Homo sapiens: one gene and its partners. The gene in region 1 interacts genetically with each later gene. Each region holds a gene or a part of one and is shown in the gene's direction. Other genes may lie near its edges. The genes, in order: PTAR1, CMTR2, SGMS2 and JTB.

Evidence for each region.
Region 2: changes in PTAR1 (region 1) and CMTR2 are lethal when combined (synthetic lethality), as found in Homo sapiens cells (one study listed by BioGRID).
Region 3: changes in PTAR1 (region 1) and SGMS2 are lethal when combined (synthetic lethality), as found in Homo sapiens cells (one study listed by BioGRID).
Region 4: changes in PTAR1 (region 1) and JTB are lethal when combined (synthetic lethality), as found in Homo sapiens cells (one study listed by BioGRID).

What each region holds. Positions count from the first base shown.
Region 1 is NC_000009.12:69,728,981-69,736,013, reverse strand, and holds part of PTAR1 (protein prenyltransferase alpha subunit repeat-containing protein 1), read left to right. Parts: intron 1-1,759; coding exon 1,760-1,864; intron 1,865-3,661; coding exon 3,662-3,875; intron 3,876-7,033.
Region 2 is NC_000016.10:71,280,881-71,286,424, reverse strand, and holds the end of CMTR2 (cap-specific mRNA (nucleoside-2'-O-)-methyltransferase 2), read left to right. Parts: intron 1-485; 5' UTR 486-504; coding exon 505-2,817; 3' UTR 2,818-5,033; downstream 5,034-5,544.
Region 3 is NC_000004.12:107,904,910-107,911,942, forward strand, and holds part of SGMS2 (phosphatidylcholine:ceramide cholinephosphotransferase 2), read left to right. Parts: exon of another isoform or gene 1-3,655; coding exon 3,656-3,822; exon of another isoform or gene 3,823-5,440; coding exon 5,441-5,644; 3' UTR 5,645-7,033. UniProt on the Homo sapiens protein: Sphingomyelin synthase that primarily contributes to sphingomyelin synthesis and homeostasis at the plasma membrane.
Region 4 is NC_000001.11:153,974,669-153,981,695, reverse strand, and holds the start of JTB (protein JTB precursor), read left to right. Parts: upstream 1-4,021; 5' UTR 4,022-4,443; coding exon 4,444-4,526; intron 4,527-4,682; coding exon 4,683-4,720; intron 4,721-4,920; coding exon 4,921-5,003; intron 5,004-5,790; coding exon 5,791-5,870; intron 5,871-6,860; coding exon 6,861-7,017; 3' UTR 7,018-7,027. UniProt on the Homo sapiens protein: Required for normal cytokinesis during mitosis. Plays a role in the regulation of cell proliferation. May be a component of the chromosomal passenger complex (CPC), a complex that acts as a key regulator of mitosis.

The sequences.
Region 1 (7,033 bases):
AATAATCCAAGACTGCAAAAGCAATTGGCTGTTGCAAGAAAAAAATATATATTTTATATATATATTATATATATATAATGACAAATTGGTTTCCTGAACATTGAAAGGAAAATAGTTGTTTTCTTTATCAAATAAAACTTTATAAATAGTATGTCACTGTTGGAAAGAAAATGTATTGTGGTATTTAGGAATTAAGTCCGTCTAAGTAGATATGGTATAAGAGCTGGATTCTGGTTTTCTCTGGCTTAAACTTCTCTAAAATAAATGAATAATCAGCCCTACACAGGAAGGACATTTTAAGATAAATAATAACAAATGATCTGATTTTATTATAAAATTATAGATACATTGAGAATTCAGTGAGAGTGTAATATCAGCACTTATCAAAAACTTACCTGAGAAATTAAATGTAAATTGTATTTACCTGAGAAACAGGTATAGAAAGCTCTTGCATGACATTCTTTATATAGTTGGCCCTCTGTATCTGTAGGTTCTGCATCCATGGATTCAACCAACCGCAGATAGAAAATATTTGGGGAAAAAATTGCTTTCTGTAGCGAACATGTTCAGACTTTGTTTTCCTATCATTAGTCCCTGAATAATGTAACAACTATTTATATAGCATTTACATTGTATTAGGTATTATAAGTAATCTAGAGATGATATGAAGTATATGGGAGGATGTGTGTAGGTTATATGGCAACACATTTTATATCAAGGACTTGAGCATTCGCAGATTTTGGTATCCTTGGGAGGTCCTGAACCAAGCCCCCACAAGATACCAAGGGACAACTGATTGCATTGAAGCTTTGGTTGGGCTTGAACAGTTTTAAAAACAACCAAAACATTACATTGCTATTACTTCTGCTGCTTATATTAATATTTTAAAAAGGAATGGCCTCGTATATCAAGGGTCATGTAAGTATTTTACCTTGTTAATAGCTCTTTTGGAAACTTATCCAAAGTAAGAATACAAAAGAAAGAAGTTATAAGCACAAAGCTTCCCCTGCCCAGATTTGTTTTAAAATAACAAAAAGTTTGACGCAACCTAAATGTCTAACAAGAAGGGAAAAGCATAGCTTCTAAATGAAAACTAATTTGATCATTTAAAATGTTCATTACAAAGATTATATAGAATCATGGGGAAATTCTTAAGATATAATGAGAGCAGGATGTAAAATTATATGTTAAAATGTATGTGTGATAGGGAAAAGTAGAAGGGAAAATTCAAAAATAAAAAATAGTAATTTGGTTAGAATAGTGATTCCATGAATGATTTTTTTTTCCCTTACATCTCAACCATATTGTGTTTGTTGTATGTGTGGTTTTGTAATGAAATAGACCATGTCAAGTCCTATTTAGGAAACTAGACCAATTTTGGCTGGTATTGGATTGGCCCTATAGGTACGATATCAGGTCTCACAACTTTTGGAAATGAGATAGGCCAGAAAACCCCATTTACCCTCACGCAAATAGTTAAGATTTAAAAATCGTTAAAATCTGTTGATTTAAGAGCTTCTCTTTCTGCTTATTAGTTTGTTATATTGGGATTATGAGAATACATTCTTGATTACTGCATGTCACATTTATGAGTGTTTTATATCCCAGAGTGGCTTGGGCTTTTTTTCTTTCTTTTTTTGTTTTAAAATTCTTAGACATTCGCTTCACAATGAGATTATATTAAAAGCCATGTAGAACCTTTGGATATAAGGATAAAGTAATGTTTAATTTTTTTTTTTTTTTTTTTTTTTTTTTACAGGAAAGAGCTGATCCTCTCTGGCACTTTAAATCCAATTAAGGATTTACATCTGGGAAAACTCGCCTTAACCAAGTTTCCAAAGAGTCCAGAAACATGGATTCACAGGTGTGGTTAATTTACAACATAGTACTCTTACTTAGGATTCAGACTGGCTGGAGAAAGAAACATGACATGTGAGAGGCAAGGTTACTTATTGGTTCCAGAGCATGAATTCTGAAGTCAGGTTACCTACATTTAAATCTAGGAGCTATATAACTTGCTACCTAAGTGTTCATGGGAAATTACTTAACTCACCAAGCCTCAGTTTTCTCATTTGTAAAATGAGAATAATAATTACACCTGTCTCATATAGTTAACAGTCAAGTTTACGTGAGTTAATGCATGTAACACTCCCACAGTGCCTGGCACATATTAAATACTCAATAAATGTTAGCTATTATTAACTCTTTGAAGCAGTTGTGGGCATTGCATTTATAGATACTCAACTGTAATGAGCAATATGGATTTTAAAAGCATTTGGTTGTTTTCCTGGTAAAGATGTTGGTGGTGATGGTTGTGGTTATTAAAATTAACTTACAGAGAAAGCTGAGGGCAGCTGAAGCGAATGCTGTGTAGGCTGAGCTAAAGTTGCTAAAATCCATACATACAAAGAACATTTTTAGGTTAAAAGCATGGGACAGATAGCCAGAATGCACTTTAGGACTCTCAAAATCCTGGCCACCTGGAACCATCTTCCTCTTGGACCCTGTGTAACTACTCTTATTTGACCAAAATGGGATGGTGTGGGCTTGCTAGTCAGGACCAATGAAGAAGTCACTCTGAAATTCTCAGTTTATTAAGCCACTCTAATTTTTCTTAAATCGTGGGCATTTTTAGGATCTTATGTCCGTTCCAGGTGTCTTAGTGGTAATCGTGCCTTTAGTTAACATTGCAGGTCAGCTTCTTCCAAACCACATAGTCAGTTATATTTTCTTCATCACCAGAAATTGAGATAGTATACCACAGAAGGGTATATGACTGTGTGTATGGGGGTTTGGAAAGGGATGGTGGCAGGGGAAAGGAACTGTTAAATATGCATCCATCAGTTTGGCTTGTCTAATTTTTTTTATCAAGCAATATTTTGTTGTTAAATAAGAAATTCCATTATTTTAAAATGACAAAGTGAGTTTTCTTACTTAATTTCCTGTACCTTTGGGTTTGAAATCTTTAGTCTAAAAAATGCTTTTATATAAGTAAATTACTGGTACAAAGTAAACACATTAAGTAGCTCGAAACACTATTTAGTGTTTTTTATGTAAATACATGTTAATGCAAATCTTAAACAGACAAAGGGAGAATTTGTGGATAAGGATATTTTGACACCTTCTTAATGGTTTAATGAATTATATTTGTTACCTTCCAGATTTTATGCTATAATACAGAATTTTGCTGAATGAAAGCTATCAGAATGCAGCTTCTTGTTTGCAAACAAATGCACATAGGGTGAGGCATGCATATATACTTAAAGATGTGAATCATGACTCCTTATAATATTTATCAGCCATTAATTTATGACCTCTCACCACGACCACACACACACACACCAATTGCCTTTACATTTCCTGGCCAAGTGGAGTTTTGGGATTGTCATTTTAGAAGTAATGACATTCTCTGTATTACAGATTTTAAAGTTTTTTTTTTTTCCTGTTTATCCATTTTCCACCCTTCATCCATACTGCTAAATTAGTATCATCATAAACAACAAAACAACCCCTCCCCATCTCCAAAATACTAGACTTATAAACAGGTATTATTTTGCATTGTCTCTGAATGGAAATTAAATTAGGAACAATGAAAACTGGTTATTTTTCTCTCTGGTTTATGTTCTTTCTGTGTTCTCTTTCCCACATGCTGCCTTAACAGGCGATGGGTGCTACAACAGCTAATTCAGGAAACCTCCTTGCCTTCCTTTGTGACCAAAGGAAACTTGGGAACAATTCCCACAGAAAGGGCACAGCGACTCATACAAGAAGAGATGGAGGTCTGTGGTGAAGCAGCAGGGAGATACCCAAGCAACTATAATGCTTGGTCCCATCGCATCTGGGTTTTACAGCACTTGGCCAAGCTAGATGTCAAGGTAGGAATATTACTGTCTCCTGGGCAGACTGCCTGTCTGCCCTTAAAATCTTCTGGTAGTAGTTCATTCTCAGAAGAGCTTTGAAGGAGTAGAGAAACTGATGGTCTGGCAACTTGAGAGAATCGCAACAGCTGCTACCTCTGGAGGAACCCTGTAATTAAATAAAAAGCTTGCATTCCCCACTAGTGCTGTTTTTGGCAGTCTTAAGGCTAGTGCATTGGTAAAGCAAGGCAGGTTTAACCAACTGAGGAAGATTGAGCATAACTCACTTTATCCTGAAACAGGAAGGGATTATTAAGCCTTATAGAACTGGAATTGCTATTTCTTGGTAGTGTTTGGTTATGTGACAATATACTAAGTCAGCTGGCTGTCTTTTCACACTCTCGTCCTCTGAAAAGGGGGAGAGGAGGGCAGGGATAGACAATCTCACCCAGGTGTTTTTAAAATTGGCTGAGCCTATAAATTACCTGGGGATTCCTAAGTTCCACTCCAAGCCTACTAAAGCAGAATGAGGGTGGATCTAGAGATCAGTATTTTCCACTGACTCAGGGTTATTTGAATGCAGAGCCAGTTTGGAAACTCTCACAGCCTAATCCTTTCAGTTTAGAAATGAGGAGATGGAGATTTCCAGAGAATTTTAATGGCTTAGACTTAGCTACAGTTGTACCACTTATTATTCATCAGAATGAGAGCCACATGTCCCTTTTGCTCCTTATATACTACGGTGTCTCAGTTTTTTCTTTTCTGATGGCGTCACAGTGCCATAAGAATCTAGGGTGCTCATCTAAAAAGCTTCTCAGGCTTGAGACAGTTAAAAGAGGTCAAGTTGAAGATTGAAGTGCCCCAGGTGATGCTTTCAGATAAGTGGGGAAGTGTTATGTAATTTTAACTTACCACCCTCTTCTTCCTACATCCCTCTTCCCATGCTCCCATTTCTCTCTTTGTTTCCTGGCCAGGGCAAATGGGAGACTTTTTACTTCCAGAGGATTTTAAGCCAATAATTCTGGAAGAGAAGCCTTCCCCATTCAGTTTACATGGCTTTGAGTTTCAGGAGGGGTGGCCGCCTAATGGAATAGAAAGAACCAAGGCTCAGAATCACATCAACCTAGGTTCAGATTTTGGCCCCACTACCTATATGTGGAAAGCAAGGTTTTATTGTTTTCATTTATAAAATAGGGACTCTACTGTCTGCCTCAGTGGATTATTGTGAGAGTTAATTGAGTTAATGGATGTAAATTACTGGGCATCTAATAGAGAGAGATTCACTCGATTTTAGTTCCTTTCTCTGTTCTCCAGAGATAGAAAATTGGCTACCAGTTTGCTTGATCAACTCCGTGCAATTTATTGATGAAAAAGTATAAAACCCTATCATACCCACCGACTGTCCTGTATACGCAGTAAAACAAAGTGTTTGCTCTCAACAAATTGAAAATCTAGTTGAGAAAGTAGACCAACAATTACAAAGCATCAGAATACAATGGGAGCACAGAAAAATCGTTCTTCATCTAGGATGCGCTCGTTGGAAATAGCTGCCGGGGGAAGGAAGATACATTGAGTTGGGAGGCATGATTACAAGTTGTTTGGTGGGTTGTCAGGGATATGGAGTGCTTGGTGGTCATCTCAGATCCATGACTTGATAGTGTGTGGGAAGAGGAAAGAGATATGGGGAGGATTGGGGATAAAAAGGAAGGCGGAGTCCAGGTTGACTGAGAGATCTTTGGAAATTTTTCTGCCATGATGTGGACCTTTACAAGTGGCATTTCCATAAAATCAGGAACAAGGGGCCAAAGTGAAATTTTTGGTTACTTGAGACCATCTGGTGGTAAAGATAACTCATTAATGGTGAGTTATAACTCATTAATGGTGAGCTCAGCTGCCAGGGTCCACTCCTGGGTTCAGATGTCATCATCCTTCCTTGACCCGCCCTTGGAGGAAGACTTACCATTCTTCCATTCACCACTTGCCACTGCAACATCTCTTGCTCTTGTTGTCAGTGAGGAGTCCTAAATTTGCAAAATCCCCTTTCTGTTGTTATAAGCCATTGGGCCCACCTAGAACATTTACTACTATGCTTTGTCTGTTACAGGAGGTAATCACAAAAATACCAGTAGTCTAAATCAGCTTAAAAATATATATGAAATGAGCCAGCATTTTTTAACTTAGGAAATTGAAAATGACTTTTTAAAGTGCTGGCATCGAGTATTAGTAAGAGTATGAAAATGAGCATTATTCAAATTGTTATAAGCTTACTGAAGGGCAACATGGCAGCACTTATCACACTTTTAAAAATAGGGTGTTATTTTTAAGAGTTCTGCTTCCAGGAATTCATCATAAAGAAATAATGGAAGATGAAGTATGGTAGAATGATTAGAAGCTTCACTCAGTGGTCATGCAGACCTGCTTTGCATTCTGGCTTTACCACCAATTTGCTGTGTAGCCTTGAGGAAGTTGCTTAGCCTCTTCAACCTTCAGTTTTCTCATCCGGAAAAGGAGGGTGACAATAATTCCCATCTCACTGAGTGATGCAAATTGAAAGGGAGGATTCATATAAAGTGGCTATCAAAGTGCCTTAATTAAGTGCTCAATAAACACTGGCTATTAAATATAGAAGTTTGATATATAAAAGTAGCATTTATAGTAGTGAAAAACTAGAAAAGCTGTAGCCCTTCAATAATGAGGGAATTGTTAGATTACAATCCATCACATTGGAATATTTTGTTATGACTAAAATGTATATTTTGGAAGATGATTTAAAGGAAAATATTCACAATAGGTTATATTAGGGTAGGCCTAATATTATTATTTATTTATTTATTTTTGAGACAGGGTTTTGCTCTGTCGCCCAGGCTGGAGTGCAGTGGCACAATCTCAGCTCACTGCAACCTCCGCTTCCCAGGTTCAAGCGATTCTCCTGCCTCAGCCTCCCAAGTAGCTGGGATTACAGGCACCCACTACCACGCCCAGCTAATTTTTATATTTTTAGTAGAGACGGGGTTTCGCCATGTTGGTCAGGCTGGTCTTGAACTCCTGACCTCAAGCAATCCACCTGCCTCTGCCTCCCAAAGTGCTGGGATTACAGGCATGAGCCACCACACCCAGCAGCCTAATATAATTTTTAATGTATTTATTAGCATTGAATGAGACAGCAAATACTTTAA
Region 2 (5,544 bases), on another chromosome or scaffold:
TTGAACAAAGGTCATGTCCAGGGATGAATCTCTAAGGATGGATTTGTTTGAGGTCATGTAGGTGTTGTCACAGTCATTGGTAGGGAAGAACTTTGGGGAAGAGTTAGATGGGTTACTATGATAATCAGAGCTGTCATTCACTGATGATTATGCTTTGTTATATGTTTTTTATATGCTAGTATGTTTTATCTTCTTCTTAAAAAATGATAGGCTTTTTTTTTTAATGAGAAGAAACCAAATCCAAGAGATGGAATTTGCCCAAGGGTGCTTATTAAGCCATAATTAGCAGAGCTGGAATTTGAACCCAGGTCTTGGATATCAAAGCCTTTTTCATTATTCCAGATTACTTGGTTAAATAACAGAGTATGCTGACTTTAGCCTTCCCATTTTATGGAGTTTGTCATGAGTGTGATCGTATTTGCTGCTCATGAGATTTCGCTCACTAATAAATTTGATTCATTTAATTATGTGTTTTCTCTTCCTAGATTTTAATTTGATTTGAAAATGAGTAAGTGCAGAAAGACACCAGTTCAGCAGCTAGCAAGTCCCGCGTCATTCAGCCCAGATATTCTTGCTGACATTTTTGAACTCTTTGCCAAGAACTTTTCTTATGGCAAGCCACTTAATAATGAGTGGCAGTTACCAGATCCCAGTGAGATTTTCACCTGTGACCACACTGAACTTAATGCATTTCTTGATTTGAAGAACTCCCTAAATGAAGTAAAAAACCTACTGAGTGATAAGAAACTGGATGAGTGGCATGAGCACACTGCTTTCACTAATAAAGCGGGGAAAATCATTTCTCATGTTAGAAAATCTGTGAATGCTGAACTTTGTACTCAAGCATGGTGTAAGTTCCATGAGATTTTGTGCAGCTTTCCACTTATTCCACAGGAAGCTTTTCAGAATGGAAAACTGAATTCTCTACACCTTTGTGAAGCTCCAGGAGCTTTTATAGCTAGTCTCAACCACTACTTAAAATCCCATCGGTTTCCTTGTCATTGGAGTTGGGTAGCGAATACTCTGAATCCATACCATGAAGCAAATGACGACCTCATGATGATTATGGATGACCGGCTTATTGCAAATACCTTGCACTGGTGGTACTTTGGTCCAGATAACACTGGTGATATCATGACCCTGAAATTCTTGACTGGACTTCAGAATTTCATAAGCAGCATGGCTACTGTTCACTTGGTCACTGCAGATGGGAGTTTTGATTGCCAAGGAAACCCAGGTGAACAAGAAGCTTTAGTTTCTTCTTTGCATTACTGTGAAGTTGTCACTGCTCTGACCACTCTTGGAAACGGTGGCTCTTTTGTTCTAAAGATGTTTACTATGTTTGAACATTGTTCCATAAACTTGATGTACCTGCTAAACTGTTGTTTTGACCAAGTCCATGTTTTCAAACCTGCTACTAGCAAGGCAGGAAACTCCGAAGTCTATGTGGTTTGCCTCCACTATAAGGGGAGAGAGGCCATCCATCCTCTGTTATCTAAGATGACCTTGAATTTTGGGACTGAAATGAAAAGGAAAGCCCTTTTTCCCCATCATGTGATTCCTGATTCTTTTCTTAAGAGACATGAAGAATGTTGTGTGTTCTTTCATAAATATCAGCTAGAGACTATTTCTGAAAACATTCGTCTATTTGAGTGCATGGGAAAGGCGGAACAAGAAAAGCTGAATAATTTAAGGGATTGTGCTATACAATATTTTATGCAAAAATTTCAACTGAAACATCTTTCCAGAAATAATTGGCTAGTAAAAAAATCTAGTATTGGTTGTAGTACAAATACAAAATGGTTTGGGCAGAGGAACAAATATTTTAAAACTTATAATGAAAGGAAGATGCTAGAAGCCCTTTCATGGAAAGATAAAGTAGCCAAAGGATACTTTAATAGTTGGGCTGAAGAACATGGTGTATATCATCCTGGGCAGAGTTCTATTTTAGAAGGAACAGCTTCCAATCTTGAGTGTCACTTATGGCATATTTTGGAGGGAAAGAAACTGCCAAAGGTAAAATGTTCTCCTTTTTGCAATGGTGAAATTTTAAAAACTCTTAATGAAGCAATTGAAAAGTCATTAGGAGGAGCTTTTAATTTGGATTCCAAGTTTAGGCCAAAACAGCAGTATTCTTGTTCTTGTCATGTTTTTTCTGAAGAACTGATATTTTCCGAGTTGTGTAGCCTTACTGAGTGCCTTCAGGATGAGCAGGTTGTAGTACCCAGCAATCAAATAAAGTGCCTGCTGGTGGGCTTTTCGACTCTCCGTAATATCAAAATGCATATACCGTTGGAAGTTCGACTCCTAGAATCAGCTGAACTCACAACTTTTAGCTGTTCATTGCTTCATGATGGAGATCCAACTTACCAGCGTTTATTTTTGGACTGCCTTCTACATTCATTGCGGGAGCTTCATACAGGAGATGTTATGATTTTGCCTGTACTTTCTTGCTTCACAAGATTTATGGCTGGTTTGATCTTTGTACTCCACAGTTGTTTTAGATTCATCACTTTTGTTTGTCCCACATCCTCTGATCCCCTGAGGACCTGCGCAGTCCTGCTATGTGTTGGTTATCAGGACCTTCCAAATCCAGTTTTCCGATATTTGCAGAGTGTGAATGAATTGTTGAGCACTTTGCTCAACTCTGACTCACCCCAGCAGGTTTTACAGTTTGTGCCAATGGAGGTACTCCTTAAGGGGGCCCTGCTTGATTTTTTGTGGGATTTGAATGCTGCCATTGCTAAAAGGCATTTGCATTTCATTATTCAAAGAGAGAGAGAAGAAATTATCAACAGCCTTCAGTTACAAAACTGAACATATGCTTTCTGAGATTCAACTTTATGATTTCTTATAATTTGCCCAGTATTTGCATCCTGTTGCTCTATTAATTTAAAAACCTTTTATTTTGGGGAAAGGCCAACATTTGCATCATTCAAAGTCTCATTAATTCTGGAAAACCATCCATTCTGATCTCTAGGGTATATACACCCACAGGCATAGAGCTCTTCCACGTGGTGGAATCTATGCAATGATAGATATTCACACTCTAAATATGAGGTGTGTGTATGTGTATGGGTGGCCACAGCCATGCTTACCTATGCCATTTAGTTGGTCTTACTTAATCTGCTTAAGATTTGCATCTGTGTACCTTTGTTCAGATTAGTTTTTTTTTTCCAGCCGATTTCCTCTTAGTGGCTAATGCTGTTAGTGAATTTTCCAACTAATTTCCTCTCATTGGTTAATGTTGTTAATGAATTGAGAGAGGTAATTGAGGAAAGGAAATGAGTAAATCACTGTTCAGCAACACTGATTTCCGTTAACACATCAGTTATGAATTTCAGGGAATTCATCTCGCCAGATTCTTGATAACATGCCATTCATTGCCCTTAGGTGATTGACCCTATTTTCTTACATGGCTCAAATAAAACTAGTATGCTGTTGTATGAATCTTTTACTGACCACACCATCCAACTATAAAAATATAACGGGACAGCTTTAAACCAAAGATCATGTTTAGAACAATGAAAAATTATTTGTTGTATCTAATACACGCCTGTATTGTGAAAAGCTTCATTTAGCAATGATGTAATAATTTTTAACTTCCAGGAAATAATCTGTGAATGGAAAGATTTTTTAAGATTTTGAGATAGTGTTTAGTCTCATGTTGGGAACACATGAATGTGATGAACATAGTGAATACTAAAGAAAACGCTTCAGACTTTCAGAATGATGGTTCAGAATTTAAAATTTTTAATCTTTTCTAATTTCTTTTTTTCAGTGTGAAAATAGCACTTTACCAAAAGATTAGCCATGAAATGGTTATTTTGCCAGTTACATTTGATTTCTTTTGTATCTGCAATGTAATGAGTTATTTTATTTCTTCTGTATTTGCAGTGTAATGAGTTTTTGTGGCAAAGTGTATTAAGCAATTTTTCATTATCTTGAAGTTCCACAAAGTGGAGAATATTTATATTCTCACATGCATTTTAGGCACTTTTGATATGTGAAAATAGATGTATTTTCTGATGCATTTGGTTAATAAATATTAATCTGAACATTTTCATGTTCTTTGCTATTTTGAATTCCATTATAGATTCATGAATAAAGTCATTACTAGAGAGATTTTGTGTTCATCTTTTTTAAATGGAATTATGGGAGAAGTTAAAAATATAAGTTGGAAACAGACATTTTTAAAGGGAGTTTTGAATGATAGTTAATGTTCTTTCATTTTCTCTGATTTGCATTCATTAAAATTTAGTCCTTAATATTGTAATACTTATGGAAGGCCTACTTCAGGAAAGAAATTGAATACTTAAGGGGGATTGGAAGAGGAGTGTGTGGAGGCCTGGAAGTAGATTTTTGAAAGAAATCTGATTTCCTACTGGTGACTCTATGGAAGCAATTCCAGTTGTATGACGATGGAAGTCTGACAGAAGGTTGATTACCAGGAGGAAAAAAAAAAACACTCTTGGAAAACCATTTTGCACTTAATAGTCTTTATGCCTTGCTAAGTGGGATTCAATATACTAATAATGCAGCTTATTTTTTACTTATTTTAACTATTTGATAAGAATGAAGTTGAAGGCATGGGTCCAGATTCTAGCATTATTACTGTCTTTAAGCCCTTCAAATAAGTATTGAATGCTTAGTGTTTTGTTGACACTAATCTGTACTGGAATATATAACACTGAAGTATTCTCAAATGTATTTTGCTTTTTAACGTGGGTTTTGGAATCAATTGCTCATCTGATTCATTGGATTCAAATTGCTTTAGAGGTTAGACATGACTTGAGGAAGGTTCAGATTGAACTGGATATATTAATAGATGACAGGTACTAATGATTTATATGAGTTTCTCTTTAAGAGAAAGGAGAGGAAAAATGCTATTCAAAAGATGAATGGAAAAGTAGAAGAAGACAGGAAGAGGTGAGAGTATGCATGTTTTACCAAGGTAGACTGTTCTTAAAAACTTTTTTCCACAGGTTTTGAGATTTTTAATTTGTAATATCTATTAAAAAACAAACATCAAATTGTTTCCTTTGTAATCTGTTTAATTTGAACAAAACATACACTTAGTGTAAGTATTATACTCTTAAAATGATGACAAATTATTATATCGAGATGGGACAGATATGCAAGACTTGGCTGCAAATTTGTTTACTACATAGTTGACACTGAAAAGAGAGACTCAATTATTTTATAATAGGCTTCCCACACCTTTAAAAAAAAAGCTGGATAAAACATTTCGGACTGATCTTAGGAGCAGAACTCAATATAAAGCAAAAATTTCAATATGGAACAAAATATGAATATTTCAAATTCAATATTGAAATGGAAAATGAATTTCCATTTCAATGGTAAGCATTTTTTAGGGTTGGCCTAATGGGCCAAGTAGCAAGTAAACTCAAAGCTTGATACTACGTATGGTAACTCATAGTATGTAGGTATGTTTTAGGACATGTAATTAAAAGAATAATGCTCAATAGATGTATATGGGTTATTATTTTGAGCCTCTAATGCATTTTTTAGTTTATATAAAAT
Region 3 (7,033 bases), on another chromosome or scaffold:
TTAGGATCTTCTCTATAATCTGAGGATCATAAAAAAATTACAGAAGAAGATGGGGATGAGGGTGGAGGTGGGGGAAGAGGTGCATTTCAGAGTGAAGGCACTGTAGGTTTAAAGTAATAAAAACACCCCCAGGAAACTTAGATTCAGTTTTCTAAAATAACTGAAAACCAACTGATATTAACTGTATTAGTCTGTTTTCACACTGTTGATAAAGACATAACCAAGACTGGGTAATTTATAAAGAAAAAGTGGTTTAGTGGACTCACAGTTCCACGTGGCTGAGGAGGCCTCACAATCATGGTGGAAGGCAAAAGGCATGTTTTACATGGCAGCAGACGAGAAAATGAGAACGAAGCAAAAGGGGTTTCCCCTTATAAAACCATCAGCTCTTGTGAGACTTATTTCACTACCACAAGAACAGTATGGGGGAAACCACCCCCATGATTCAGTTATTTCCCACCAGGTCCCTCCCACAGCACATGAGAATTATGGGAGCTACAATTCAAGATGAGATTTGGGTGGGGACACTGCCAAACCTCATAAACAATAATAGCAAATAGACATAATACTCTGTCCCAGGCACTATTCTAGGGCCTTGATGTAAATTAACTCATTTGATCCTTACAACCACCCTCTGAGGAATGCAGTATTTTTTCCCATTTTTCAGATGAGTAAACTTAAGCTTAGAGAAAGTGACTTGGCCACAGTGCAGAGCCATCATTTTGAGAAGCAGGTATTCATGTTGAAGGAGGCTGAATCCAGGGGTTTTGCTTTTAATTTCTTGGCTCTGTTTAGAACTTTGGAAATTCAAGCTGGCTAACTCTATCGTATTGCCAAGGAATAGTCTACTTATCTATAAGCAGGGACATTGCTCATTATTGTACATTCTTTCATCTCAGAGCAACAGCAAGGCAACTTGTGATTGATTTTATACTTTAATGAAGGCCTCTCAGTATGTAGAGACATTTTTTCCCAAGACATGATTTTGACTAGAGGTTTCTAAAATTGTGTACATTTATATATAGTGTGCAAGGAATACCATTCTGCTTTCTCCAATATTTGATTAGAAATAGAGGGACAAATCTGTAATACTTAACACAAACTCAGTTTATAGTCAGTTCTGTATGTAAGCAGAGCATTCCATGTTTGTGTCTGTTTTTTTCTATGCAATTAGGAAAAACATTTATCTTCTAAATTATACCATATGTTCTTGTTCTGAGTAAGCAGTGGTTCCAGTGGTTTCTTTGAAAAGTCTGCTTCTAGAATTAGATGTATCATTTATATATATATTTTTTTACTTTCCCGCCTTTTGATCAGTTTGGGCTCTTTTCCTTGTTTGCTCTGTTGTCATGAGTAGATTTAAATTTAGTTGTGAGAGCACATGAAGATGTGGCACCAGGACCATTTCGGGGTTAGCAAGGGAGGGCTTCATACAGTCGTGCAAATATTATAATTGGGGGGTAGGTTCATGATAAAATTAGCCTGGAGAAATCAGACTAGCTGTTAGTGCCAATCATCTGGCTAGTAGAGAACAGTTTTTTGGTTTTTTGTTTTTTCACCTGGCCACCCTACCAAGTCTCTATTATTTAATGAGCCCTAGGGCTAGAATTCCACACAGACAGTGATGTTAGCTATTATTTGTGTCATCATCTAGCTCATTGTTATCCCTATGGGATGAATGAGAAGAGGATTACCATTTTGCCATTCTATTTCAAAACAGCTTCTATTCAATCTTTTCTTTGGGTCAGCCAGTGTTCTCAGTTAATGAGTGGTGGGCCCAATGTGGTAGCATAACAGGAAATACATTTTTATGAGAAAGCACTGCTGGGGTTTCCAGCCGTTCCTAAAACCTCACTTGCAATTCCGTGAGTAGTAAAAAGAAGATTCAGGCCACCTCTGGACCTACTTCAACTTTGCTTCTTGTGAATAAACAAATGCAAAATAGTTCTAGTTTGCCTAAACATTTTGAACTTCTAAGGTAAATCCCAGATGACCTGTAAGTTGGGAAGCAGGGTTGCTAAGAGACCTTGGGGGTGGGAGGCGGGTAGGGTCTGAGGTGCTGGGAAACGCATATTTAGTGAGACCTCCAGATTTCTCAATGTTCATTCAATTTTTAATGTCCTGAGTCTAACACAACAGTTATGGGGACTGGATCTGGCTCCTAAGACTGCAAGAGTAAGGCCTCTCCCATTAAAATTCTGAGATTCCATGAGTTTTCTTCCAGAACTTAGTGGCAGAATGAAGTAACTGACAAGTAATAAGGAATATATCCAAAATTAGAAAATCAGACTTTCAAATGCCATACAGGTTTATTTTCTTACTGTGTGCCATTTGGGACCAACAGAGCAACGGCTAGTTTTACCAAGAGATTATATTTGAATGATACCTGATTTGGTATTTCATTTAAAGTTCTGGAAATGGGCTGGGCGCAGTGGCCCATGCCTATAATCCCAGCACTTTGGGAGGCTGAGGCAGGCAGGTCACCTGAGGTCAGGAGTTCAAGACCAGCCTGGCCAACATGGTGAAACCCCATCTCTACTAATAATACAAAATTAGCCAGGCATAATGGCGCACCCCTGTAATCCCAGCTACTCGGGAGGCTAAAGGAGGAGAATCGCTTGAACCCAGGGGACAGAGGTTGCAGTGAGCCAAGATCGTGCCATTGAACTCCAGCATGGGCGACAAGAGCGAAACTCCCTCTCAAAAAATAAATAAATAAATATAAAGTTCTGGAAATGGATCCTTTTGCTATTCAATCATCTTTCTACATGTGAATGTAAATATCACTATAAATGTAAACATAGTTAAATATGAAATCAATTTCAGTTTATTGGATTAACTTTTATTGTGAGCTAATACAGCTTTAAAATAAAACAGATCACCAAGCTGCTAGAGATGAACTCTGGTTTCAGTTATATTTGTCATTAACACTTGTGTGAGAAGGGGAGGACCATCATGTTTAAACCAGTGAGTGCCACAGTTGTCTCTTACAGCTAGTAAGTAGAATGAACTTTTAAGTGGCTTTACCAGGAAGGCTGAGTCCATAAGTGAATGGTTAGGAACCCTAACCTTTACAGAGGGAATGTTTTATAGTTTCTATTGGCAATAACAGTGTAAAATTGCTGAGAATCAAAATATTGCTAGCCACAATGCCATTCCTTCTGACCCCCTTACCCTACACATACCCCTGGAGAAATAATATAAATTTAAAACCTGAAATTACTCCTGCTTTCCCATTTCCCCCCTTATTTTCATAGACCACCACCTTTTCTTTTGATCCCTACTATCTTTCTTTCCAGTGGGAAAGTGGCTCCTTTATGTGAGCCAGTATGCAGCAATTCCAGCAAACCTAATAAGAAACAATTCTGTTCTTTCTTACTAAACAGCTTATTCACGTGGGTAAGGCCTAGAATGTCTAGTGTTACCAGCTTCCCCAGTGAATGACTATTACGCCCGCTGCCAGGGAGCCCCTCTGCCTCCCTCCTACCTGAGCAGATCCTGGGCAGTTCATAGTGACTCAGTTTAGGTTATCAGTTTTATCCTTCTGGTGACTTCCTGATCCTGGGTTATTCTACTTAAGGTCGTTAGGACAGACTGTAATCATTACATTCATCTCTGGGAATCTTATTAACTCTGTAATTTTTCTACTGTCCAGATTCGCCTCGTCACTTCTGGTGGTATCATTTAATCTGCTGGCTGCTGAGTGCTGCCGGGATCATCTGCATTCTTGTAGCACACGAACACTACACTATCGATGTGATCATTGCTTATTATATCACAACACGACTGTTTTGGTGGTACCATTCAATGGCCAATGAAAAGGTGAGAGCAGTGAAGATGCTTGGATAATTTCTTTTCTTTGAATGCAGTGGACCCTTTTCATGTCGTGGGGTTTTAGATAGCCTAATGGGGATAACCGATGTTGCCACATTCACTTAAACATATATCCATTACTGCTTTTTAAAATAAAGCAAAGAACTTCACAAATATAAATGCCATTTATGGATAAAAATGCCATAAAGTTATGGAGCACAGTGCATTGCTAATTCAGGTAACTTAAACTAGAATGAAAAAATATATGTACTAAATTAAAATTTAGGAACCTTCTCTGTAAAAGCATTGTAGTGCAGCTGGGTAAGACATAATCCTGCCTTCAACTTAAATTAATTTTAAGGAGAAGGTAACAGCTATTTTTTTTAATTTTTTTTTTTTTTGAGACAGAGTCTTGTTCTATTGCCCAAGCTGGAGTACAGTGGTGCAATCTTGGCTTACTGCAACCTCCACCTTCCAAGTTCAAGCGATTCTTGTGCCTCAGCCTCCCAAATAGCTGGGATTACAGGTGCACGACACCACGCCTGGCTAATTTTTATTTTGTATTTTTAGTAGAGACAGGGTTTCACCATGTTGGCCAGGCTGGCCTTGAACTCCTGACCTCAGGTGATCCTCCCACCTCGGCCTCCCAAAGTGCCAGGATTATAGGCGTGAACCACCGTGCCCAGCCGATAGCAGCTATTGTTTAAAATCACACAAAATAAATAGCTTATGAATGACTGGATTTGGTATATCCTCTGGTGATAATGGTGCTCTCTGGCTTCCCTTCTGATTCTTCCTCATTTGCTACTGCTGCTTCCTTGTTTCCAGATGCCTTTTCTTTCTTCTCCCATTGAAACTTAAAGAGCTAGCTCAAATGCCACCTCTTCCAGGAAGCTGTCTCTAACTCTTGCTCTCTTCCTCTGGTCCGAAGGCAGAATTATTCCTCCCAGTCTCTCTTTTCTCCTAGTCTTGGTATGTGTCCTTGGTGTAATAGAGTTGGTCTGTGTACCATGACTTACTTATCTTTGAATAGACTTGCCATATTGTCAATTTGGAGAATTTGTGAGCAATTGAAATATTACATTTCCAAAGGATCTACGTCCAACTCTTGGTGTCCACTAATAAATGCTCTTTCTTTGGATTACTTTATTTCTCTTTGTAGCTCTGTTTCCTATTTTGTAGTCTCCCATTTCCATCTTCCTTCTTACACTTCCATCTAGTTGACTACTGACACCACTGAACCAAAATTTTCATCTTTCCTCTTAAATGTGTTCAACTTCTGAGCTCTTCTTTCACTCTTTGACTTGCTTGGCCCCTAGATTTGATCACTCACACATCCTGAAAATTATTCCTCCTGAATAATTCTGAAATCCATTCCCAGAGTCTCCATTCTTACTGGAATTGCAGGCAGAAGAAATTGCATGAGCCACAAAGGAAAGAAAGACACCTAGGTGTGTTAGGGGAGCGGAGTCATGGTAGAGTTAGGGAAAGGACATGAAAATCATTACTGCCATGTGATTCTGAATTCTGTTTTCCCTAGGTTACAGTGAATGACAATTTAAGAAAATAATTGGGATGCAAATTGAGAAAGATATGTCTCATTTAAATTTTTTTCTACCATTTACAGAACTTGAAGGTCTCTTCACAGACTAATTTCTTATCTCGAGCATGGTGGTTCCCCATCTTTTATTTTTTTGAGAAAAATGTACAAGGCTCAATTCCTTGCTGCTTCTCCTGGCCGCTGTCTTGGCCTCCTGGCTGCTTCAAATCATCATGCAAAAAGTATTCACGGGTTCAGAAGATTGGTGAAGACAATGAGAAATCGACCTGAGGAGCAAAACAAAGGCATCAGCTCTTACACCAAAAGAGTTAACGCTGTAACCAAAGGTATAGTTTTGTTTTTTATTTTAGGAGAACTGACTGGTAAATGAAGAAATGGACCAAATTTTGTGTAAACGATTAGAAAGATGAACAAAGTATTGCCCTTTGACTGGTTTTCTTCTTCATCCTGAGAAAGATACATTCTCTTGCAGCTCTTCATTCATTGGTGACAAGCCCCCACCCCGGGACTTTACTAATGAGCTTGTTAAAGAGGTGCCAAAGAACATATTCCTCCTTTCTTTATTCTTTCTCCACCAAAACCCTCTACTTCAGAATTTTTTCAGGATATTTTTCAGCCCAAGGTCAGAAGAATGTGTTAATATTTTAAATAAAATATCTGGACATCTACAGCCACTGTGTAAATAGAACTGCCTAATGTTGAGAGTGGTTTTTAGCATTAGGTTTAGCAAGGGGGAGATCCGTGGGTTGTGCGTCAGCTTTGGGTGAATTTTGTTTCTACCCTGTCACGGGGAAAGTTCGGGTTGAGTCCAGGAGTGCACACTGCTGCTGCCACCCAATGCGCTACATATCACTTTTTTTTGTTTTGTTTTGTTTTGTTTTTAAAAGATCATTTTATCTTAAAAAGGAAAGCTGATCCAAGTAAACACGAAAGTATTTGACACACCCCACAGATTTTACATGTGTGTAAATGTTTCACTTTAAAATCTCTATGACAGATACACAGGAAACATGAGATGGTTTCTGCTAATGAGTGGCCCTTGAGTACACACTTAGATGCTGTCTGCCCTGTAAATTTGGATCTGGTGCCCCAGGGCAGTCAACTCTTCTAGCACAGGCTGAAAACACGTGTGTGTCAACTGAGGTTCACACCACTTGGGGAATGAGCCTGTTTTCTTTCCAGGTCAGGCCCTGGTGTGAGATCAATTTTAGGGCTCCTAATTGGAGCACAGAAATGTATTTGGTCAAATTTCATTGAAGGTGATTTCTTCCTTTTTCTGTTGTACTTTATGGAAAAACCAAGATGGAACCTGAAAGTTAATGTATCCTTGCTTTTAGCAAGAGACTCAGTTTCTTATAACTAGTCCTAAGGACATATGCCGCAATTGAGTAATTTTACTTTTACCCTATGAAAATAACATGGTGCTGCACTATAATATACTCTCGGAATCAGTGTGTTAGTTACAGCTATACAGTGAAGGGGGATAACTGTTTCTAAATTTCTTTAAGGTGATGCCAAAAAATGGATTAAAAAATCTGATCAGATTTAATGTTACCAGATTTAGTGCATTATTTAATGCTATTGGATCTTTTGGATAATTCTTGGCTTAATTTCTTAGCTACTTGAAGGTTAATTTGCAAGACTTTTAAAACCTTAGAA
Region 4 (7,027 bases), on another chromosome or scaffold:
CTTGTCATGGTCTTTCTTGGTATTAAAGGCCACCATTTGCACAAATGTTCCTGTTTTGGGTAACTTGGATTATTGTCAGAATTGTTCTCCACTCAAATCCAATTATTGTGTCTTCAAAGTGATTGATTTACCCAAATCAGGCTCGGTTTCTGTGGAACCAGGACTAATCCTACTGCTGTCTCTTCCCTAGCTGTTCTGTTGGTAAGGAAAATAGCAAAGAGCAGGAGGTAGAGTGATCTGAAGGTCTGGATATCCTCTTTCCGCCATGGGGTCCGGATGCCCTTGTGGGCAGAGCCTTGTCCTGAGCACAGGAAATTCCCAGCGAGAAGAACTCTAACAGTCCTAGCCTCAGGGAAATAACTGCACCTAGTGATTTATCCAGTGATTTGTGCAAGCTTCTTTGATTCTGCCAGCAATCCATTTAGTTATTTGATAGGCATTAATATCTGCTTTTATTAGTGAGGAAAATGAGAAGTTCATTTATTCATATATGTATATTGAGCATCTACTAAGTGCCAGGCACAATGGTCAGTTATTTTATTTATTTATTCATTTATTTTTAGGGACAGAGTCTTGCTCTGTCTCCGAGGCTGGAGTGCAATAGTGCGATCTCAGCTCACTGCAACCTCTGCCTCCTGCCTCAGCCTCTCAAGTAGCTGGGATTACAGGCGTGAGCCACCATGCCTGGCCAATAGTCAGTTAATATAGCCCTTTGGTGGTACTTACAAGCAGAGGGACAAGGACTTTTTTTCTTTTTTAAGACCGAGTGTGGCTCTGTCGCCCAGACTGGAGTGCAGTGGCACGATCCCAGCTCACTGCAACCTCTGCCTCCCGGGTTCAAGCGATTCTCCTGCCTCAGCCTCCCGAGTAGCTGGGATTACAGGCACGTGCCACCACACCTGGCTAACTTTTGTGTTTTTAGTGGAGACAGGGTTTTGTCATGTTGGCCAGGCTGGTCTTGAACGCCTGGGCTCGAGTGATCAGTCTGCCTCAGTCTCCCAAAGTGCTGGGGTTACAGGCGTGAGCCACTGCGCCCAGCCTGGGACAAGCAAACTTTAACAAAAACAGCTCTTTGGCTGGGCGTGGTGGATCACAACAGGAGTTCAAGACCAGCCTGGCCAGCATAGTGAAACCCCGTCTCTACTAAAAATACAAAAAAAAAAAAAAATTAGACAGGAGTGGTGGAGGGCGCCTGTAGTCCCAGCTACTTGGGAGGCTGAGGCAGGAGACTCACTTGAACCTGGGAGGCAGAGGTTGCAGTGAGTTGAGATCACACCACTGCACTCCAGCCTGGGTGACACAGCCAGACTCTGTCTCAAAAAAACAAAAACGAAAACAAAAACATCTCTTTGCTGAATAACAAAGATGGCAAAACTACTGGAAATGCAAAAGAAAATTCAGGCTTGGGCCGAGCACGTTGTTTCATGCCTGTAGTCCCAGCACTTTGGGAGGCCGAGGTGGGTGGATCACTTCAGGTTGGGAGTTTGAGACCAGCCTGGCCAACATGGCGAAACCCCATCTCTACTAAAAATACAAAAAAAATTAGCTGGGCATGGTGGTGGGTGCCTGTAATACCAGCTACTTGGGAGGCTGAGGGAGGAGAATCGCTTGAACCTAGGAGGCAGAGGTTACTGTGAGCAGAGTTCGCACCATTACACTCCAGCCTGGAGACAGAGCGAAACTCCATCTCAAAAAAAAAAAAAAAATTCAGGCTTGATGCACAGCATCCTTAAGTATATATATATTATATTATATTATATATTACAATGTATAATTATATATATTATATATTAAATATATAGGAAATATATAATATATATAACATGTATATGTTTATAAACATATAACATATTATATATAATATATAATTATATATTATACATATATATTAAATATATATTATAATTATATATTTAATATATAATATATTATGTTTAATATATAATTATATATAATTATATTATGTTTAATATATAATATATAATACATATTTTAATACATAATATATATATATCCCCCTTTCACCATACATAATATTTTTTACACAGCAAAATGTAATAACTTGATAAATGTAAGTATCCAAGCATTGATGAGGTAATGATAAACCTTATTTGTGGCTTATGCTTAAGTTCTTTTTTTTTTCTTTTGAGATGAATTCTTGCTCTTGTTGCCCAGGCTGGAGTACAATGGTGTGATCTCGGCTCACCGCAACCTCTACCTCCCGGGTTCAAGTGATTCTCCTGCCTCAGCCTCACGAGTACCTGGGATTACAGGCATATGGCACCATGCCCAGCTAATTCTGTATTTTTAGTGGAGACGGGGTTTCTCCATGTTGGTCAGGCTGGTCTTGAACTCCCGACCTCAGGTGATCCGCCCACCTCGGCCTCCCAAATTGCTGGGATTACAGGCGTGAGCCACTGCGCCCAGCTGTGTTTGAGTTCTGTAGTAAACTGTCCGGTAGGTTTAATTTGCTCAAGCGATGAGGAAAAGACTTGCACTTTGTGCCTCCTGGGAAAGAGACTAACGTCTTCAACATACCTTATGGCAGATATTTAATTTCAGAGTAGAGACCCCACTCTGATGCCTGGTAAGGTTATTGGAAGTGAAATATCACAAGATCTTACAGTTTGTTGTGAGATAAGGTAGGATTTGGTGAGGAGTAACAAATACTAGCAGATTTCGGCCCAAACTTCAATTATAGCTAAACATTACTGGAAAAAACCCCACAACCTACTTTATGTAACATATAACTACTCACACACATACACAAAAATAATACACACACAATTTCAGCAAACACAAATAATAATTTAAAGAAACAAATTCAAAATTAGAGCCAGGTATGGTGGCACATGCCTGAAATCCCAGCTACTTGGGAGGATCCCTGAAGACGAGAAGTTCCAGGCTGTAATGCGCTATGATGGCTCCTGTGACTTGCCACTGCACTCCAGTCTGGCAACATAGCCAGAGTCCATCTCGTTCAAAAACAAAAACAAACAAACAAAAAACGGCGAAATGAAGGCTCAGCCCTCATCAGGTTTAGGTGACAGAGCTAGACCCTGTCTAAGAAAAAAAATAAAATTAAATGAAAATTCGTTATCAGACAGTAAAGCATGAACCCACAGTGCTGGTCAAGTCACTGCAGATCTGAGTGTGTATCAAGGTTTAACTCCATAAGATGAAAAGCAGGCAATGAATCTTTGGCCTGGGTGTTGACAGTCTAGGCTCAAGCCTCAGCTTTCCCACTCATTAGCTTGCTGACCTTGGACAAGTCACTTATATTCTCTGAACTTACTCATGAAACGGAGATACATTTCATCTGCCTCTCGCAAGAAAAAGTCCTGGTAAATACACATTAGCATTTCCGTTTTACACAGAACACTGACAGATACTTTCCTAAGATCATGGAGTTAATAACCACCAGAACCTAGACTCAATACTTATGGAACTTCAAATCTCATGCTTTTCTCATTGCACTTATGATTACTCCATTATGTAGGAGCAAGGGAGAGTTGAGAGCATTTGAAGAGGTTATGCAAAGGACCAGCTCTGAGGAGTAGGCTTAGCAAAGTAACATGAGGGAAGGTAACACCGTTCATCTGTGTAGCGGAGTGGGAGCCAAGAGACAAGGAGAAAGTTTCATGTTCGTCATGTGTCTCGGATATTCCGGTTTCTGCAGGGACGAGAACGCGCAGTTTCGCCTCCATCCCTTGACCTCCAACACAGCTTCTCCACTGGATCATCGGTGGCGATGAAGGGGCGGCTGGGGAAGGATGTCAGAGAAACCAGAAGCTTGACGGTGAATCCTCGGGTTTTAAGGAGAGAGCAAAGTCCTGAGAGGGCGACGTATTGTCCCTGCTCACCTAGCCCAGAATGAACAAACACGCGCCAGCCAGGGAGCAGCGAGCCGAGAATTCGGACGAGCCTCTGCAACCGCCATTTGCCGTTCTCGCAAAGACTACCAAGACCACAATGCAACGGGGCGCCGAGCTAATTCCCAGTGAGCAGCAGGCGAGGCGCCACCGACGCGGAAGACTATAAGCCCCAGCGGGCGACGACCGAACGCCCCCGGGAACACCGGGCCCCGAGCTCGGTCCCGCGCCCGAGGATCCTCCACGGGGCTAGATGGCTGCGTCGGGGGCGGGAGCGGAGGTGAGCGGGCGCTAGGGCCGCGAGCCCCCGCCGGCCCTTCCTCCAGCGCCCTGCGGACCCCGCAGAAGGCGCTCGCCTCCCTAGCCCGCAAAAACATATCGATTTTTCTCGCTGTGGCAACGGGGACGTCCTGATAGATCCTCTGCTCCAATAGGCAACTCCGGCCTTCCCTGCCCTGACCTGGAACCTCTGGGAGGGCTGCAGAGTAAGTGCCGCCTCTGCGCTCCGACGGAGGCACGAGGCCTGTGGAGTAGGTCCCTCTGTTCCGACAGGTGCGACACTTGGCGCTCCATGCTTGCGGGTGCCGGGAGGCCTGGCCTCCCCCAGGGCCGCCACCTCTGCTGGTTGCTCTGTGCTTTCACCTTAAAGCTCTGGTAAGGAGGAGGTAAGGGGAGGGAAAAGGAGGTCACTGGAGGACAGGATCGTTCCCGGCCTCGGGGCTGGGGGAGATCTTATCCATGGACAGCGCAGGAGGGGGTGCCCTATTTTCTGGGTTTTGACTTTTGTCCCTTCCCCCAACTCCGCTACAGCCAAGCAGAGGCTCCCGTGCAGGAAGAGAAGCTGTCAGGTGGGTGATTGTCTGGGAACCCGACACGTCCCGTCGTTTGTTTTTGGTTTTAGTATCTTCCCCATATACCAAGAGCACAGGTGGAAAAGGCCGGCACCACATGGAATGAGGGCAAGCGCTGTGCCGGGAAGTTGGATGGGCAGAGCCTGGGAGAAATGTTTTCTGAATGGCCTGGGGCTGGCATTTATCTTTCCTTTCAGCAAGCACCTCAAATTTGCCATGCTGGCTGGTGGAAGAGTTTGTGGTAGCAGAAGAGTGCTCTCCATGCTCTAATTTCCGGGCTGTGAGTATCTATTTCTCTACCCTTTTTTTTTTTAAACATCTAAGCAAACACTTAAGCAACATCTTAACATCCAAGTCTTATTAAGCTGCCTTTGCATCATCTTTTTTTCTTTCTTCTTGCAGTCTCAGTGTATGTCCAAATCTGTACTTGTCTTTCCCCTGAAAATGTGCCCCTTTCTTTCCAAGCTAATGGCAGTATTCAACTGATAACTATGGTTTTTTTGTTTGTTTTTGAGACGGAGTCTCACTCTGTTGCCCAGGCTGGAGTGCAGTGGCGAGATCTCGGCTCACCACAACCTCCGCCTCCCGGGTTCAAGCGATTCTCCTGCCTCAGCCTCCTGAGTAGCTGTGACTAAAGGCGCGTTGCACCATGCCTGGCTAATTTTTGTATTTTTAGTAGACTCGGGTTTCACTGTGTTGGCCAGGCTAGTCTCTAACTCCTTACCTCGTGATCTGCCCGCCTCGGCCTCCCAAAGTGCTGGGATTATAGGCGTGAGCCGCCACACCCGGCCTCAAATAACTATGTTTTATTCACTTTTAGTATAGTAGGCTCTGGAATGGAATGTATCTTTGCCACTCCTAGACTGTTGCCCCTGAAGTGTTCTAACATACATTCGTAATCATGCAACCACCACCTCCACCATCCGCATCAGAACTCTTTCATTAGCTCTCTGTTGCCTACCACTCCAAACCATAGCAGTTGGGCACCTGCACCTTCTGAATGGCAGCCTTTTTGTTTATCCTGTTGCCCCTTCCTAACATGTACTTTGCTCCTTTTCTCCTGGCAGAAAACTACCCCTGAGTGTGGTCCCACAGGATATGTAGAGAAAATCACATGCAGCTCATCTAAGAGAAATGAGTTCAAAAGGTGAGTGCTGTTTCTCTTCTCTGAGATCACCTCCTTTGCTCCTATGACTTTAGATGGATGGTCCCACCTTTTCCCCTGGTCTGGGGGTAGCATGGAATATCTGAAAGAAGAGGGGGCCGGGCTCACACCTATAATCCCAGTACTTAGGGAGGCTGAGGCTAACAGATCACCTGAGGTCAGGAGTTCGAGATCAGCCTGGCCAACGTGGTGAAACCCCATCTCTACTAAAAATACAAAAATTAGCTGGTGTGGTGGGTGCCCATAATCCCAGCTACTTGGGAGGCTGAGGCAGGGAGAATCACTTGAACCCAGGAGGCAGAGGTTAGAGTGAGCCAAGATCATGCCACTGCACTCCAGCCTGGGCAATGGAGCGAGACTGTGTGTCAAAAAAAAAAAAAAAAAAAAGAGGCTGGGAGGGGTGGCTCACGCCTGTAATCCCAGCACTTTGGGAGGCCGAGGCGGGTGGATCACGAGGTTAGGAGTTCAAGACCAGCCTGGCCAAGATGGTGAAACCTCATCTCTCTTAAAGATACAAAAATTAGCTGGGCATGATGGCGGGCACCTGTAATCCCAGCTACTTGGGAGGCTGAAGCAGAAAACTGCTTAAACCCGGGAGGTGGAGGTTGCAGTGAGCCAAGGTCACGCCACTGCACTCCAGTCTGGGTGACAGAGCGAGACACCATCTCAAAAATAATAAGAAAGAAGACGGGATTTGGAGCCAAATTACTTGAACCCAAGTCCCAGCTCTACTCCTCAGCACTATGTTATTGGCCATATTTTCTCATCAGTAAAATTGGTTAATACTAGCTCTGCTTATCCAGAGAATAAATTAAATGATCTATTTGAGAGGGATTTATGTACTATACACACAATAGAAGCCTGGCTCTGATTTCCTCTTGAGTGTATCCTGGCTAGGCTGAAGTAGAAGGGAAATTAGAGGGAGAAGCTGTCTGGCCTTCCTTGGGAATAACTATTCCTTCCTGCCCTCAGCTGCCGCTCAGCTTTGATGGAACAACGCTTATTTTGGAAGTTCGAAGGGGCTGTCGTGTGTGTGGCCCTGATCTTCGCTTGTCTTGTCATCATTCGTCAGCGACAATTGGACAGAAAGGCTCTGGAAAAGGTCCGGAAGCAAATCGAGTCCATATAGCTACATTCCA